4 linked regions of the Homo sapiens genome follow. The protein of the gene in region 4 purifies or fractionates together with the protein of the main gene of each other region. This does not show direct contact. Each region holds a gene or a part of one and is shown on either strand. Other genes may lie near its edges.

The links. The genes of interacting proteins can lie anywhere in the genome.
Region 1: the proteins of PRKAG2 (region 4) and MYH8 purify together in Homo sapiens (affinity purification with mass spectrometry; one large-scale study listed by BioGRID and IntAct). This does not show direct contact.
Region 2: the proteins of PRKAG2 (region 4) and PLCXD2 purify together in Homo sapiens (affinity purification with mass spectrometry, with the first as the bait; one large-scale study listed by BioGRID). This does not show direct contact.
Region 3: the proteins of PRKAG2 (region 4) and GPT purify together in Homo sapiens (affinity purification with mass spectrometry, with the first as the bait; one large-scale study listed by BioGRID). This does not show direct contact.

Annotation. Positions count from the first base shown.
Region 1 is NC_000017.11:10,419,151-10,423,268, reverse strand, and holds the start of MYH8 (myosin-8), read left to right. Parts: upstream 1-1,318; 5' UTR 1,319-1,339; intron 1,340-1,562; 5' UTR 1,563-1,606; intron 1,607-3,011; 5' UTR 3,012-3,041; coding exon 3,042-3,251; intron 3,252-4,118. UniProt on the Homo sapiens protein: Muscle contraction.
Region 2 is NC_000003.12:111,705,676-111,709,175, forward strand, and holds part of PLCXD2 (PI-PLC X domain-containing protein 2), read left to right. Parts: intron 1-2,250; coding exon 2,251-2,711; intron 2,712-3,500.
Region 3 is NC_000008.11:144,502,653-144,506,939, reverse strand, and holds the start of GPT (alanine aminotransferase 1), read right to left. Parts: upstream 2,801-4,287; 5' UTR 2,636-2,800; coding exon 2,474-2,635; intron 2,337-2,473; coding exon 2,247-2,336; intron 2,170-2,246; coding exon 2,061-2,169; intron 1,976-2,060; exon of another isoform or gene 1,943-1,975; coding exon 1,809-1,942; exon of another isoform or gene 1,774-1,808; intron 1,695-1,773; coding exon 1,451-1,694; intron 1,093-1,450; coding exon 1,013-1,092; intron 946-1,012; coding exon 809-945; intron 709-808; coding exon 534-708; intron 440-533; coding exon 284-439; intron 210-283; coding exon 97-209; intron 31-96; coding exon 1-30. UniProt on the Homo sapiens protein: Catalyzes the reversible transamination between alanine and 2-oxoglutarate to form pyruvate and glutamate. Participates in cellular nitrogen metabolism and also in liver gluconeogenesis starting with precursors transported from skeletal muscles.
Region 4 is NC_000007.14:151,874,316-151,878,532, forward strand, and holds the start of PRKAG2 (5'-AMP-activated protein kinase subunit gamma-2), read right to left. Parts: upstream 2,801-4,217; 5' UTR 2,306-2,800; coding exon 2,192-2,305; intron 1-2,191. UniProt on the Homo sapiens protein: AMP/ATP-binding subunit of AMP-activated protein kinase (AMPK), an energy sensor protein kinase that plays a key role in regulating cellular energy metabolism.

The DNA.
Region 1 (4,118 bases), on a different chromosome or scaffold from region 4:
GAGTGTAGAATGAAAAAAGAAAGTTTGTAAATAAATAATCATACTATCTATATTTTAAACATCTATATTATATATTATAAATTTTCTATGGCCCAATTTCCTTAGACCAGTTTTACTAATTTATATTTTCCCAGAAAATACATATGTAAATGTACAGAAAAGGTCTGCAATATTACAAACTAAACGGGTATCCGTAGTTACCTTGGGAGAAAAGGGAGATACCAGCATTGTGAGTGTTCATCAAAGGGAAAATTTAGCCTAATCTCTAAGGCTTTAATTTTTATGTAATTACAGTGTAAGAGGTTACACACCTGCATATATTTATCAAACCCATAGGCCTGGAATTGTTCTGCATCCTATCTGTGGTGGTGGCTACATGAATCAATACGTGTATAAAAACTCATACAATCATACAACAAAAGAAGTAAATTTTATTATAAAGTTTAAAAATTTTTAAAAATAAAAGCAAAAAACCTCATAAAACTGTCACTTTAAAAGGGTGAATTTGACTCTATGTAAATTATACCTCAATATATCTGACCTTAAAAAAAGGAAAGAGTTTAATTAAAAAAAATCATAATTTATTTAAAGAATAGGGTATAAATTACATTAGTGATATGATATATTAATTATTAAAGCATATTACAAGGCACACATGTACTATATATGCATCTATAATATGATCCCACTTATACGCCTCTATCTTATTTCTGCATTAGAGATTACAGAGACTTTTTTTACTTACCTGTATTTTTTTCTGTAATAAACATATTATTTTCTACTAATAATGTTTTTCAAAGTTAGATGAGTGGGCACTGGCCCAATGGTGGAGACTCAAGGTAGAATCTCTGCTGTCTAAGCCTGGACTTCAAGAGTGAGCATCTGTAGTGGCCCAAGGGAATGCAGTGGGGGGTTCCCGTGGTAGCAAATAAGGAAACGTGCTTAAGGCCCTGACAGCCGTGTGCCCCGGGTATCTGATCATTTGGCTACCACAGGCGTGCATGAAAGAGTTTGCCAAATTGAATATAGCTCTTAAGAACTTACTCTGAGGCCCCATCAGGCACTGTCAAAGATTCCCTTCCCAGCACACTAGAAAGCATTCTCTGCTGGCAGATCGGTCTCTGTCAAATTATTTATAGGAGATTGGTTTGCATACACAAAATGATATGAATACTTCTAATTATATCCAAACATGACAAATGTCACTACAAACTATGCTGAGGGTTCATGTTGCCAAATGTCTTGCCCTAACAAAGAGGAGGTAGTTGCAGCATCAGCACATTAGTTCCTATATAAGCAGGACTGCCCCTTGTGCCTTATTTCCACCAAGAACCCAGAGGTAAGTGATGAAGGCCTTGGAACTCGAAAAACCCCAGGTGGGGAAAAGAGCTGACCTCGTAGTTATCTGTGAGCATTAAACTGCTCTCTCAATCTTAACTTTTGTCTTCATAGAACCAAGCTTTGGGGTAGGGAAACTTCAATTCTGTAACTATAATAACAATTCTGTAACTATAATATTGGAATTTCGGAGCATCACTAATAAGAAGCTTGTTGTTTTACAGAGTGGAACACTTCTGAACCTGCATTTTTATCTGGAACTCCAGAGGTAAGACTTGGCTTTATTAATTTATTGATGACAGAGGGGATATAGTCTAATGAAGCTGTGAACAATCCTGAATTATACACCATTTCCATGTTTTTGCAGTTATATCAGGAAAGAGTGTTTCCGAGTGAGTGTTTATAAATGCTAGAAAATAACTTTTTCAAAATGTCTTCTTCTCAGAGACTATCCTCATTTGGGTTCCAAGATTCAAAGACCGTTTAGGACAGAATTAGCTTCAACAGTGAGTTCTCAGCTGTGCTTAGAACTGTCCAGTGGCAATAGACTAGTCCATGCCAGTCTTCTTCTATGGCAAAGCATTGAGGACTTAGGACATTTTATAGACATTTTTAAAGACTCCAGAAAGATTTTTACCTAGAAATATAAATATAAATATTTTAGCTACCTTTGATTATTTGTTATTTGTTGTTAGAAAGACTTATTATTATTTACTTAACAGGTCGCAAGTATTACATCCACCGGGTGTTAAATACCATGACTAATTTAAGAGGAATCCTGCCCTTCCCTAAGTAACTTTCTAATTGAAAATAAAGGAAAAACTCAACCAATCTAACATGTCCACATTGCAGAGGCCTATCTATTAATCAGAAGACAATGGCTTACATGCATGTGATGTACTCTTAAAACTTTTTTCTCTGTTTTCTGGGTGGAAAGAAAAGAAACCCATGGAATTTATGTGGGAAGAAGGGCCTTTGTGCTGAAGCTCTCATTCCTCTGTGGTTAGATCTGTTAACTGACAGCTGAAATCTCTCATGTCAAAAAAGATTTTGGAATCAAGGCAATGCTAAGTCTGTTGGGAACAACCCAAATTACAAAAAATCCAGAGTATTAGAATGTATTATGTTCTTCTAACAATCCACTGAGAGATACAACACCAAATATCAACATAAAGATGTTAAAAATAATTATTTGCTTTATGAGAGAAAATGGCCATCTTAAAAGGCAAAGATTTTTTGATAGCTTTGAAAATATGAACCTTCATTTGAACAAGACAAACTTTCTTTTCTCACCATATGATTGTCCTGGCATATGGCATAGACAAACATTATGCAGAAAGAGGAGAGGAAATTAAATAATGACAGTTGCTATAAAACAATCCATCAATAGTTTTAGCTGTAGAGGTTTCATTCTAATTCAATTGTAGGTACCCTATCCCTGAGGATCAAGATATGTGATCTGAAAAGGAAATTCACAGTCCTAAAAATGAAATCTCAAATTACAGTCTCACTCCATACTTGTCCTTTAGACTATGTTAGAACACTGGGGAGTGCCAGTTTGGAGGAATAGTTACAGCACAGGCTATGTTCAACATTTCTTTCATTTCAAATCCTAACTCACATTTGTGACTTCTGCTTTTTATATCTCTCTCTCCCGTTTCTCTCCTCCCTAGGCAGAATCCTTTGCTAAATAAATCGCAGCCATGAGTGCGAGCTCAGACGCTGAGATGGCTGTTTTTGGCGAAGCTGCTCCCTACCTTCGAAAATCAGAAAAGGAGCGGATTGAGGCCCAAAACAAGCCGTTTGATGCTAAAACATCTGTCTTTGTGGCGGAGCCCAAGGAATCCTATGTGAAGAGCACTATACAAAGCAAAGAAGGAGGGAAAGTAACCGTAAAGACTGAAGGTGGAGCAGTAAGTGAAAACAGGGAGAAAATACTCCCCATTTTATTTCTTGGTTCAAAAGTTGAAGCCTAACTTACTGGGAATCTCCAAGCCTGTTGCCAATGCAAACACCCTTCTAGTCAGTGTTGAGACATTAGATGTGGAAGGCAAAAGAAATTCACAGCAGTACCTTCATGTCTTCCCTTCCCAACTTCGCACAGGACCTCACCCCACTATGTATGGCCTTCACCATTTCCCTTCAATTCCCCACTTCCTAGTCTGAATGTCCAAACTTGAGGGAAATGAAAACAAGCTCCTCCTATCAGAAGTTAAATATTTACTTAGTTAAATAATGTATTAATATCCCCATTACTTCCAAAAACATGAAGTTTCTTAATGAATGAAAGAAAAAAATAAAAATTTAGCCTACTAAAATAAGAAAAAAAGGATATAAACTGATAAATCTGGGATAAGAGAATGTGGGAGGAAAAAATCTTTTAAAAAGATAGTGTCCTAGCTCATCATAGGAAACAGGTTTTCTTAACATTAAACTCTGAAATGAATATATTTCATGCCTTTTTTAAGAGGACATTAAATAATATAATGAGAAGTATGTGTGATTATAGTTTTGTACCAAAATATACAGGCAAACATAAACCCTACCTCCAACCATTAAAACGAACTGGTCTTAGCCAGGCGCAGTGGCTCACGCCTGTAATCCCAGCACTTTGGGAGGCTGAGGCAGGTGGATCACCTGAGATCAGGAGTTCGAGACCAGCCTGGCCAACATGGCGAAATCCTGTCTCTACTAAAAATACAAAAATTAGCTGGGCATGGTGATGGGCACTTGCAATCCCAGCTACTCAGAAGGCTGAGGCAGGACAATCACTTGAAGCA
Region 2 (3,500 bases), on a different chromosome or scaffold from region 4:
TTTTTTGTTTTTATAATTGCTGTTGTAACTGGGCAGGGATGATACCTCATTGTGGTTTTGATTTGCATTTCCTTGATGATTAGCGACATGGAGCATTGCTTCCTATGTTTGTTTACTATTTATATGGTTTTGTTGTTGTTCGTTTGTTTGCTTGAGACCAGGAGGTTGAGGCTGAAGTGAATGACAAACATCTTAAAAAGACAGGGTCTTACTCTGACCCAGGCTGGAGTGCCGTGGTACGATGTTTGTCATTCACTTCAGCCTCAACTTCCTGATCTCAAGCAATCCTCCCACCTCAGCCTCCTGAGTAGCTGGGACTGCAGGTGTGCACCACCACTCCTGGCTACTTTTTTTGTATTTTTTGTAGAGATAGGGTTTCACACATGTTGCCTAGGCTGGTCTCAAACTTCTGGACTCAAGCGATCCACCAGTCTCAGCCTCCTGAAGTATTGGGATCACACTCATGAGCTACCATGCCCATCTGTGTGTCTTCTTTCTGAGAAATGTCTATTTAATTCTTTTGTCCTCTTTTTAATTTGATTATTTAGTTTTTTTGCTATTGAGTTGTTTGAATTCCTTGTATATTCTGGATATTAGTCCTTTGTAAGATGAATAGTTTGTAAATATTTTCTCCCATTCTACAGGTTGTCTTTTCGCTCTTGATTGTTTCCTTTGCTAGGGTGGAGACGTCAGTTTAATATAGTCCCATTTGTCTATTTTAGTTTTTGTTGCCTATGTGTTTGAAGTCTTAGCTGTGAAACCTTTGCCTAGACCAATGTCTTGAAGCATTTCTTCTATGTTTGCTTATAGTAAAGTTAAACAATAAAAGAAGAAGAAAGGTACAAAGAATATACAAAGTAATTAGAAAATAATTAACAAAATGACAAGGACTAAGTCCTCATCTATCAATAATAGCCTTAAATGTAAATGTTAAATTCCCCAATTAAAAGATATGGACTGGCTGAATGGATTAAAAAAAAAAAAGACACAACTATATACTGCCCACAGAAAACTCACTTCACCTGTAAAGGCACACGTAGACTGAAAGTAAGGGATGGAAAAAAATATTCCACACAAACGGAAACCAAAAGTGTGCAAATTAGCTATACTTATATCAGACAAAATAGACTTTAAGGCAAAAAAAAAAAAAAACACAAAGAGAAAGAAGGTCATTATATAAAGATAAAGTGATCAGTTCAGCAAGAGGATATAACAATTGTAAATATATTTATACACCTAACACCAGAGCACCTAGATTTATGAGGCAAATATTATTAGAGTTAAATAGGTAGACTCCAATAGAATAATAGTTGCAGACTTCTTCAGCATTGGACAGATGGATTATCTAGAAAGAAAATCAACAAAGAAACATCAGACTTAATCTGCACTATAGACCAAACAGGCATAACAGACATTTACAAAACATTTCATACTATCCCTTTGTTAAGACAGAGGAACAGAATGTGCGTTTGGACCATTTAATAGCAGTTTTGGCTCATTGAGGTACGAATTCAAAAAGAGGGACATATTAACTAAACTGTGTTGAGCCCATCGAAATGGTTAGCTGATCTGTCAATAAATCATTCCTACTGACTCAGACTTTTACAATAGTAAAATAATATATACAATTTTTTATATATTTTAAAAACATAAAAAGAAAGCAAGTTTAGTTTCTTGAAATCCTGCCTTTCCTAGAATTTAAATCCCTTTCTCGGCATTGTTGAGATAGACACAGTGTTTTCATACCCTCTGTTTCAATGATGGCATGAATAAAGTGGATATACCACAACAAAGCATTCTTCTATAAGAGACACTTAAGCATTATCTCCAGTTTGTCTCTATTATGAATATTCTTTGGCAGACATCTTTGTTTTCCTGAATGTTAGAGTTTATTTCCTCAGAATAGCTTTCCTGAAATGAAATTACTGGAGCAAATTGTATGAATATTTTAAAGCCCCTATTTTCAGCATATTTCTAAATAGCTTTGCAAAAGGATATTTATTAATTTGCCTTATGCCAGCAAAATATATGAAAACTATAGTATTACCCCAGGCTTAACAAGCTGCTACATTACTTTTCTTTGTGTTTATTTTATTCCTAGCAAGCTTGGCAAATTTTGCTACTATTCATTTGCAGTTTTAGTATGTTATTTGGTGCTTAATTTTTGTTTTGTTTTGTTTTCTCATCAATTGGCTTATTTTTCCCAGCTCCCGTCTCATCTGCTTTCCTCACCTGTATTCCTTTGTACAGGCTCACATGATTCATTCAGCTACTGGGTGGATGAAAAGTCCCCAGTGGGGCCTGACCAAACCCAAGCTATCAAACGCCTCGCCAGGATCTCCTTGGTGAAGAAGCTAATGAAGAAGTGGTCTGTGACTCAGAACCTGACATTTCGAGAACAGCTGGAAGCTGGGATCCGCTACTTTGACCTGCGTGTGTCTTCCAAACCAGGGGATGCCGACCAGGAGATCTACTTCATCCATGGGCTTTTTGGCATCAAGGTCTGGGATGGGCTGATGGAAATTGACTCGTTTCTTACACAGCACCCCCAGGAGATTATCTTCCTGGATTTCAACCACTTCTATGCCATGGATGAGACCCATCACAAATGCCTGGTTCTGCGGATCCAGGAGGCCTTTGGAAACAAGCTGTGCCCAGCCTGCAGTGTGGAAAGTTTGACGCTGCGAACTCTGTGGGAGAAGAACTGCCAGGTAGGAGGGAAGGAGAGATAAGCTTCCAAGAGCAAGAATTTAACTCTTCCTGCTTTTCCTGTATTGCCGTCTGTAAAATCACTCAATCCAGGGCTCTTAGGCTAAAGAGTGGATTGTTTGGAATATTAAACATATGCAAACTAGTTCCTGGGCTCTAGAATAGGTTCAAGGGCCAGGGCTAACACCTGCCAAATACTTAAAGCTTGTCCAGCAAACTGTTTGACATCTAATTGACTTTTAGTGGCCTGGCCAGAACCAACCAAGGCAAAGTTGTAAAATTGGGCCAATAGGTCATTACTATTCTCTGTTTCCCGAGGTCCATTTTTACCCTTCTGGTTCCCCTCAGGGATAGTCTGTTCCATCTTGCCTTCAACTCAATGTCAGATAATCCTGGCCAAGGTATCGACTGATTAGGAAAAGTATTAGCTGACTGAAACATAGTGATTCATCTCAGGAGTGTTAATATTATAAAAGTATTTGGGTCTTAGAGGGAGAGAGAGTTAAGGAAGGAAGAGCCTGTTGAAGGGGCTGCAGCCTGTAAGAGCATTCCATAGTCTGCTTAAGTTGAGAAGAGCCTGCCAGCCTAGGACCATGAGGGACACGCTCAGGAAGAGGAATGTGGGCCTCAGATATATTCCACTCTGATCCTAAAGGATGACAGTAGGAGAAAAGAGCTTCAGGAAAGTGTTTAATTTACACTCTCTGGAAAAAAAAAAAAAAAAGACATACCTTTCATTCAAAGTTACTCACTTGCTCAGCAGATGCATTAACCAAAACAACTTTACGAGG
Region 3 (4,287 bases), on a different chromosome or scaffold from region 4:
AGTTTCTCCAAGGGGGGCAGAATGGTCATCCTGAAAGGAGTTGACAGTGAGTGAAGGGCCAGGGTGGCGGGACAGGGAGTGAGGGCCAGGCCTCACCGGAAGTGGTAGGTGCCTTCCCGCTGCCCAAAGCCGCTCCCTGGCACCACGCAGATGCCGGTCTCCTCCAGGAGGCGCAGGCAGAAGAACATATCGGGGGCCAGGCCCAGCTCCTGTGGACGGAGAGCCGTCAGAGAGGGATGCCCGGCCCCCCCTGCCCACCCCGCAGGCCCCGCCCCCGCCTGACCTGAGCGCGCTCCACCGCCCGCGGGGGCAGCTGCACGCGCGGGAAGGAGTACATGGCGCCCTGCACTGGGTTGCAGCTGATGCCAGGAGCCTCATTGAAGACCTGCTCGGTGAGCTTGGCCTTGGCCGCCAGCTCTGCCAGCACTGCCTGCTTCTCCTGTGGCCGCGGAGGGAGGGCCCATCAGGGCACGGCACTCGGCATCCCCCACCCCTGATTAGGTCACCTGGACCCCCTCCTGCCCCCAACTCACAGCCTGGAACTGCGCAAAGGAGGGGTCGGTGGGCGCGGGCGGGCTGACCACCAGGTCCAGCAGGGCCTGTCCTGGCACCGGCGGGCACAGCCGCACACTCATCAGCTTCAGCATCTGCTGCTGCACTGCAGCGTCCATGTTCACCACCTCCACATAGCCGCCGCGGAACCCGCACCTGCGCACGGCCAGGTCAGGTGCGGAGGAGGGGGTGGCCCATCGGGCGAGGAGGGCCTGGCCATGGCCCGCGAGCCCCCACCCGCCTCGTACGCACGCACTCGCCCATGTAGCCCTTGGAGGTGGAGTGGAAGGAGGCAAGCTCCTGCTGCCCGGCGTAGGGCGGCCCCATCTCCATGAGCACCTTCTTGAATGAGTGGAACTGCGAACCCGCGGCGTACACGTTGTCCTGGTACACCTGGAAGGGCGCAAGGCGTCACGGGGGCGGACTGTTGCCCGGCTTCCCGCTCCCCCGCGCCGCGCACCTCGTCCGCCAGCAGAAAGAGCCGCTCTTCGAAGGCGAAGCGGATCACGGCCTCGATGCACTCGCGGGTCTGCACCTGCCCTGGGGTGCCGGGGAGGCAGCAGTGCTGGGTGAGCCAAGGGGGCGCACTGCCCTCCGCTGGGCAGCCGGGGTCCAGCGGACCCGGCACTGCCTGGGCCAGGGCGCACGTGGGTGCGGGAGGAGTGGGGCGGGGCGGCGGGGAACGCACCGTGGGCGCGGAGGGAGTGGGGCGGGGCGGCGGGGAACGCACCGTGGGCGCGGGGGGAGTGGGGCGGGGCGGCGGGGAACGCACCGTGGGCGCGGGGGGAGTGGGGCGGGGCGGCGGGGAACGCACCGTGGGCGCGGGGGGAGTGGGGCGGGGCGGCGGGGAACGCAACGTGGGCGCGGGGGGAGTGGGGCGGGGCGGCGGGGAACGCACCGGTGGGGTTGCCAGGGTTGATGACACAGAGCGCACGAGGGCGGCAGTGGTCACGCGCCTGGCCCAGTGCACGGTGAAGCTCGGCCACGTCCAGCGCCCAGGCACGCTCCTCGTCCAGGTAGTAATCCACCTGCACTGCGCCCAGCTCTGCCAGCGTGGCCGAGTAGAGTGGGTACTGGGGGATGGGGATGAGCACACCCGTGCGTGTGTGGCCCTCGCCGGCCACCAGCAGCTTCAGCACCGTCTGCGGAAAGGAAGGGGAAGGCAGGGTTGGCGAGGCCTGGGGCCGCACCTGTCCCCCACCCTGGGCGCCCCCTCTGCAGTGTCAGGAATGTCTTGGTGCCCATGCCCAGCCTACCACGATGGCATCGCTGGCCCCTGTGGACAGGAAGACGTTGTTGGGGTCCGCAGGGATGCCTCCGTCACGCCTCTCAATGTACCGCGCCACGTCCTCCCGGATCAGCTGGATGCCGGAGCTGACGCTGTAGGCCCCTGGACTCGGGCAGGACAGGATGGGAAGTACAGGTGAAGTTCTCCTCAGCCCTCCCAAGGGACTTCCCTCCTCCAGTGGCAGGGCGGCCCTCTGCTTCCTCCTGGCCCTGGCTCTCACCCAGACTGTGGCCCCCACACGCCTGCAAGATGCGCTCCGCCCTTTTCTTGGCATCGTCAGGGAAGTTGGGGCTGCTCAGAAGATCAGGGTTAACACAGAGGGCCAAGACCTGGGAAGACGGAGTGCTGAGGCCAGGGCACATGGGCTGGGGGTGGGGGGGTGCTCCGGGCAGTGCAGGAGCCTCACCTGGCGCAGGAAGGTGATGGGCCTCTGCCCCATAGCCTGTGCGTCCCCGATGTTGGCACGGATGACCTCGGTGAAAGGCTTCTTCACACCCTGGGAGGGGAGGGGAGCAGGCAGGGAGACTGTGCCCTACCTAACCCCTCAGCCCTTGTCCCATGTGCCAGTGGGGCTGGGGCCAACTCGGCCACCCCATTGTGACCTGGAGGGCAGCGAGGGGCCCTGGGCCATACCTGGCGCAGCTCCTGCTCCAGCTCCAAGGCTCGCTGCACTATGGGGCCACGCACTGCGTACTCCACTCTCCGCACACGCGGGTTCATGCCGTCCAGCGTCAGCACCTTCGCCCTCAGTCCATGCCTCACCGCCTGGCTCCGGTCACCTGTGCTCGAGGCCATGACTCTACCCAGACCAGGCGGGAAGGCAGCTCAGGAGGTGGCAGGACCAGAAGTGGGAATGGCGACAGCTGGGTCTGGCTTAGTGGGCCAGGGCTGGGAGGGGGCAGCCGTAGCAGAGGGAACTCCAGGCAAGAGAGCACCCTCTTCACCGCAGCTGGCCTCACTGGGAGGGACAGAAAGGGCTGAAGGAGCTGGGGACAGTTGGGCCCCGCCCCACCCGTCTGGGAACAGCTCTGCCCCAGGGAGGCAGAGGCAGTGGGTGAGGTGGCAGGCGGGGCTTGGGGCAAGGCCCAGTGCCTGCCTAGTGTCCCCACGAAGGGAGAGCAGGAGACCCACATGGGGGGTAGGTACAGACGTCAGTCCGGACAGCTCTGAGGGACTAGACATGGGGGGAGGGGGAGAGGGCTGAGCACCTGGGGTGCTCAGGAGGTGAAGGGGTGCCCAGCAGCCCTGAGGGGCTGGCAGAGCTGGCAAGGAGGGACCCCCGAGGCGAGACTGGAGCCTGGGCTGCTGGGATTTACCCCAGCAGGGCTTGGCCGAGGCCTGGCCCTCGTGGCACCCGCATCTTTGCTTGGGCCAGCGGACCTGTCTCCTATTAACTGAGCCAGGCCTCAGGAATCCAGGGGGTGCTGGGGGGAGGGGAGGGGTGTTCAGGCTCTGGGTTCCATCTGGACCCTCCAGAGCTGGCAGCTATGGCCCAGAGGCTGCAAGAGCTCTGTAGCTGGACCTTGGTCCCTGATGAGCACTGCGAGGGGCTGGGGGAGGGGGCTGGAGCCAGGCAGTCCAGCCCTGAGCCCTGGGACAGCTCACACCGTGGCTGCTGTCATGCCCTTTCACCAGGCACCAGCTGGGGGTTGCCCTTGGGACACACCCGAGGCTAGGGGTGACCTGAGCTCTCCAGCCCTCTTGTTCCCGATTGGAGGAGAGAGTAGGAAACGAGCTGGGATAGGCCGTCAGAGCCCCACCTCCACAGGCCTGCTGAGCTGAAAGGCCAGGCTCCACGCTGGCCCACCCCAGCGTCGGGCACCGAAACCTGAACCATGGGGGTCAGGGAGCCGGCCCTCTGAGCAGGGCTGTGGGCAACCAGCCAGGCCCAAGTCGGACCTTGGCTCCTCTGATCCTGCTGGCTGGGAGAAAAGCCATCGGGAGCCCTGGACAGCCGGCCCCCAGGCCTCTCACCGTGCACGTCTCTGTTCCGCTGCCACAACAGCCTCCCCGTGCGCAGGCCTGCCCCTCTGGCCCCCAGGCCGGGGCACAGGTTAACATGGGCCTGGCCCCAGGCAGAGCCAGCCCCTGCCCGCCCCCTGGCAAGGGAGTCCAAGTGGCAGCCCTGGTGGCAGGTGGACCTTGGGCAGCTGCCCCACCCCCCACACTAAATTTAACCAGCAGCCAGCCCTGGCCCGCCCACAGCCCTGTGAGGACACCCTTCCAACCAGGGATGCTAGGGGAAGGGCAGGCCCAAAGGACACTGGGCTGACGGGCCCGTGCTGAGCCAGGAGGGAGAACAGCCCAAACCCACACCACCCAGCACTGGTGGCCACACAAAGCCGCCCACCATGAACAGACGAACCAGCGGTGCCCTCAGCCCTCCTGCTTGAGGCCCCTAAGGGGCCCCCTCACCCTGACACATTGTGCCAAGCCAGCTCAGAGCC
Region 4 (4,217 bases):
ATGATGTATATGTATATGATGTATATGTATATGTATATGATGTATATGTATATGTATATGATGTATATGTATATGATGTATATGTATATGTATATGATGTATATGTATATGTATATGATGTATATGTATATGTATATGATGTATATGTATATGTATATGATGTATATGTATATGATGTATATGTATATGATGTATATGTATATGTATATGATGTATATGTATATGTATATGTATATGTATAAGCCATACATTTATAGGACACTTTACACTTGTCAAGAGTTTTCCCGGGATGGGTGTGATGGCTCACGCCTGTAATCCCAGCACTTTGAGAGGTCAAGGTGGGCGGGTCACTCGAGCCCAGCTCATGTGGACCAGCTTTGGGCAACATGGTAAAACCTCATGTCTACAAAAAAAATAAATAAATTAGATGGGTGTGGTGGCACATGCCTGTAGTCCCAGTTACTCAGGAGGCTGAGGTGGGAGGATCACTTGAGCCTGGGGAGGTTGAGGCTGCAGTGAGCCATGATTGCACCACTGCATTCCCACCTGGGGAGCAGAGTGACACCCTGACTCAAAACAAAAAAAACAATAAAAAAGAGTTTTCCCATGAATTACTTTATTTCAATATCCGTATAAAGCAGGAAAAATGGGTATTATTTCCTGCATTTGACAAATGGGAGAAACAGTAGTTACACGGTTAGCTCAAGTGATCACTGTTTAAGAGGTTTGTGGCAGCAACATCTAACTTTTAACTCACGAACATGGTTTTAAATGTCTTACATGAGAGATGTAAACAAGAATGTTTCATTTTCAAATAGAACACTTATTCCTGCATAATCGAGTCACCACCGTGGGGGCCACACAGCAGCCAGGGGTCCAAGTTTCCAGCCCCAGAGCTTTCCAGCCAGGGAGGGCTGGCCCAGGGCCCCTGTGGGGCTACTTGGCATCAGGTGTCTGGAGACCCGCCCCTGGACTCCACCCTCTTCACCCAAGCGTTAGGCACGTGTGGGCCGGAGTTTACACAGGAGGACCTTAGCGGGGCGTCTAAAAGAAGGGTGGCTCAGCAAACACGGGGCAGTGCGCCCTGGGATTCACAGTGGGAAGTGAGTGGCCTGCCTCGGCCATGCCAGCTGCGCCTGACCCTGTCGGGAAGGATTAGCTTTAATGAGGGGTCCGGACAGCCCATTCACTGCGCACTCCCACCCTGCCCCGGGAGAGCAAAATAACTTTCTCTACGGAGCACTCTGGTGTGTGTGTGTGTGTGTGTGTGTGTGTGTGTGTGTGTGTGTGTGTGTGTGTACACAAACATTTACTTGGTTGGCTGAGGCGGAGGGTGTGACCCAGTGGGCCACACCTCCCACCGCCCTACCCCGCTACGTGGAGGCGAGGAACAGTGGCCGCGGGCTACCGGGGCGCCTTCCGAAAAGAGAACCACTACGCGGCCCGCCGCCCCTCTGGCTGGACAAAGTGAAGCCGCAGGCAGATCCGAGTCGCCAATGTCCTCCCGGGCGGCTGGCGCGGACGGGGCTGAAGTTCAATGCAGCCTGCACGGATTAGGGAGCTCCGAGCCCCCAAATACCACAGAGACCCAAAGTACACTCCCGGGGCGGGGGAAGGGAACGGCGGCAGAGGAGACCCCCGCTCCAGGCCCAGAAACGCCCGGAGAGAAACTGGAGCGGAGGGGGTGCATTGGAAGACGCAGCTACACAGCTCCCCCCAACCCCCGCCCCGCTGCTTTCCCCACCCACCGCCCCTCCCCTCTCCTCCCTCCCCTCCCCTCTCTCCGTCTCCAGCAGCCGAGCGCGGGCTCCACCTCCCCGGAGCGCAGTCCACACCGTCCCTTTTCAGCAAAACAACACAACGCACCGCCCCCCGCACCCGCACCCGGCTGGATACCGGGCTACGCCCAGCCGCCCACCCGCCGCGCCCGGCGCCCCCTCTAGTCTGCAGCCGCCCAGCCCCCGCCCCAGGCGGAGCCCCAGCCCTGGCTGCACGCGGGCAGAGAGAGAGATTGAGCCCCGGCTCCGCCAGCCCAGCTCGGGCCCTGTCCCTCTACCCTTTCCCCAAGCCGCCCGAAGTGACAGGAGGGGCACGCACGGCGCGCGCGGGGCGTCCAGCGTTAACCGCTTCGGCGCCGGGGACGGGAGCGACAGGAGGGCTGGGGAGCAGGGGACCGAGTGCTGGGACTCACCGGAATGTGCACGCGCAGCGAACGCCTCTTCTGGCTGGCATTTTTCTTGCCGCCGCTCCCGCCGGGGCTGGAAACATCTTTTTTCTTCTTGGTGTCCATAACCGCGCTTCCCATAACTCTAACCAGAAGTTGATTCTGCGAAACTCCTCGGGGGTTCGGTCCCCTCCTTCCCTCCCCCGGCCGCTGCCTTCGGACTGGAGCCGCGCGCTCTGTTACACCCTGAAGCCACCTCGTGGGGACTTCCGCGGAGAGGGAGGGTGAGCAGGGAACTCGCGCGGCCGCCGCCGCCGCCGAAGCGCCGAATTCAAGCGTCCTTTCCTACGGAACCCTCGTAGGCAAATCAGTCAAAGCCCGTCCCGGTTCTGGTGTCTCCCCGGGTTACTCGTGGCTGAGGTCTCCCGCTGGGTGACAAAGTTTTCTTCCTTTTGCAAAGCTAAGAAACATTTTCCACCCTCTCGGCTCCTCCCACAGATTCCCAGAGGTAATCTGAAAGGCAGGTGCAATTAAAACCAGCAATTTGGAAAACAAGCCTCCTATGCCTGTGCCCAAGTGGGGAATCTGGAACCAGTAAGCCCGTTCGTGCATAAATGTAATCCTCGGCCGCAGAATAAACCAGCTCGGAGCCTGCAGCTGGGTCCGTCCTCCTTTCTGGGCGAGAGGGAGGGCGGCGGGGGAAGAGGAGGTGCAAGGCGAGCCCTCTGCGCAATTAGGCTACGGGCGGCCGCTGGCAGAAGTTCTGGCGGCGGCGCTCGCGGCCCTGCGCGCCGGAGGGGGCGCCCGGAGTCCAGCGGGCCAAGAAGGGCAGGGCGCCCGCTCCTCGCCCCCCGCCGCGCCGCGGCCCCAGGGGACCGCAAGGGGACAGTGAGGGGCCGGGCCTGGCACCGACGCAAGCTCGGGGAGCGCGGGTGGTGGGAGGCGGCGCGTGTTGAACAGGAAGTGCGCGGCGTGCAGCGCCACCGTCCCGCTCCCCGTCGCCCCACGCCGCCCTCGTCGCCGCGCCCAGACCCCTGCGGCGGCCGCAGCCGCTTGGGACTCGCTGCGAGCTGGTTTCGGATCCATCCCGCCTCCCGGCGTCTCACTGTGTGCCCTACCCTTTGAAACACGCCCCCGCGCCCGCCCTGCCGTAGACCAGGCAGCGAGGAAGCCCACAGTCTCCGGGGGCGCTGCGCGCGAAGTAGCACGTGCTTCTCGAAACACCGCAGCCCCCGGGTCCCGCCCCGCCCGGCGCGCGCACTCGAACCCGCCCAGAGAGCGGTGCGTGGCGCTGGGTGCGAGCAGGGTCTAGCCACCCCCACCCTCACCCCACCCCACCCCACCCTGCTTTTTTCAGGTTCATCAAGGTTTGCGCAGTGGATCCGCGGTAAGTGCGTGTCCCCACGCCGCGGGAAACGTGGGGCTCCTGAGACTGCGGAAAGAATTGGGAGAAGGGGAGGGCTCGAAGACCCGGGCGAGGGTTCCCGGTGCGGCCCAGGTCCTTTAGAGCCCCGGGTGGGCATCCAGTACCGCCTGCTGCCGAGGGCCCTAGAGGGGTTGGGGGAGGGGGCTGGTGTGTCCCCCACCCCCAGATGCGCCCCAGGATGGCGCGACCTCGGCTCCCTGGTGGAAAGTAGGGGGAGTGCTGGCTTGGGGGTCGCTTCCCCTCCTGCTCTAGTTTCTGAGGATGTGATGACCCCAAAGGTCATTGGCGCTCCCAGAATGCTGACGTCAGCTCAGCCGCTCCGAGTAATCAGTAATGCAGGGAGGCCACCCGCAGAAAGAACGCGACAGGGGTCGCTTTGGGGACACCATAGGGCCTTTACTCCTTTTGAGGTGCGTGCTTTCGCAGGACTCCCTCCCCAGAGGAGGAGGCATGATCAGCCCACCCAAAGGATCATCTCTTAGGAAGCAGGCGTGCGCCCACGCAGGGAGAAGCATCCTTCCTTTCAGCTGCTTGCCGGGTGGCTTTTCCAACCCGAGTTCCAGCAGCTTGCACAAAATCCTTACAGCTTGGGTGGTTCCCTGGCTCATAGGGGTGGGTTTATATTCT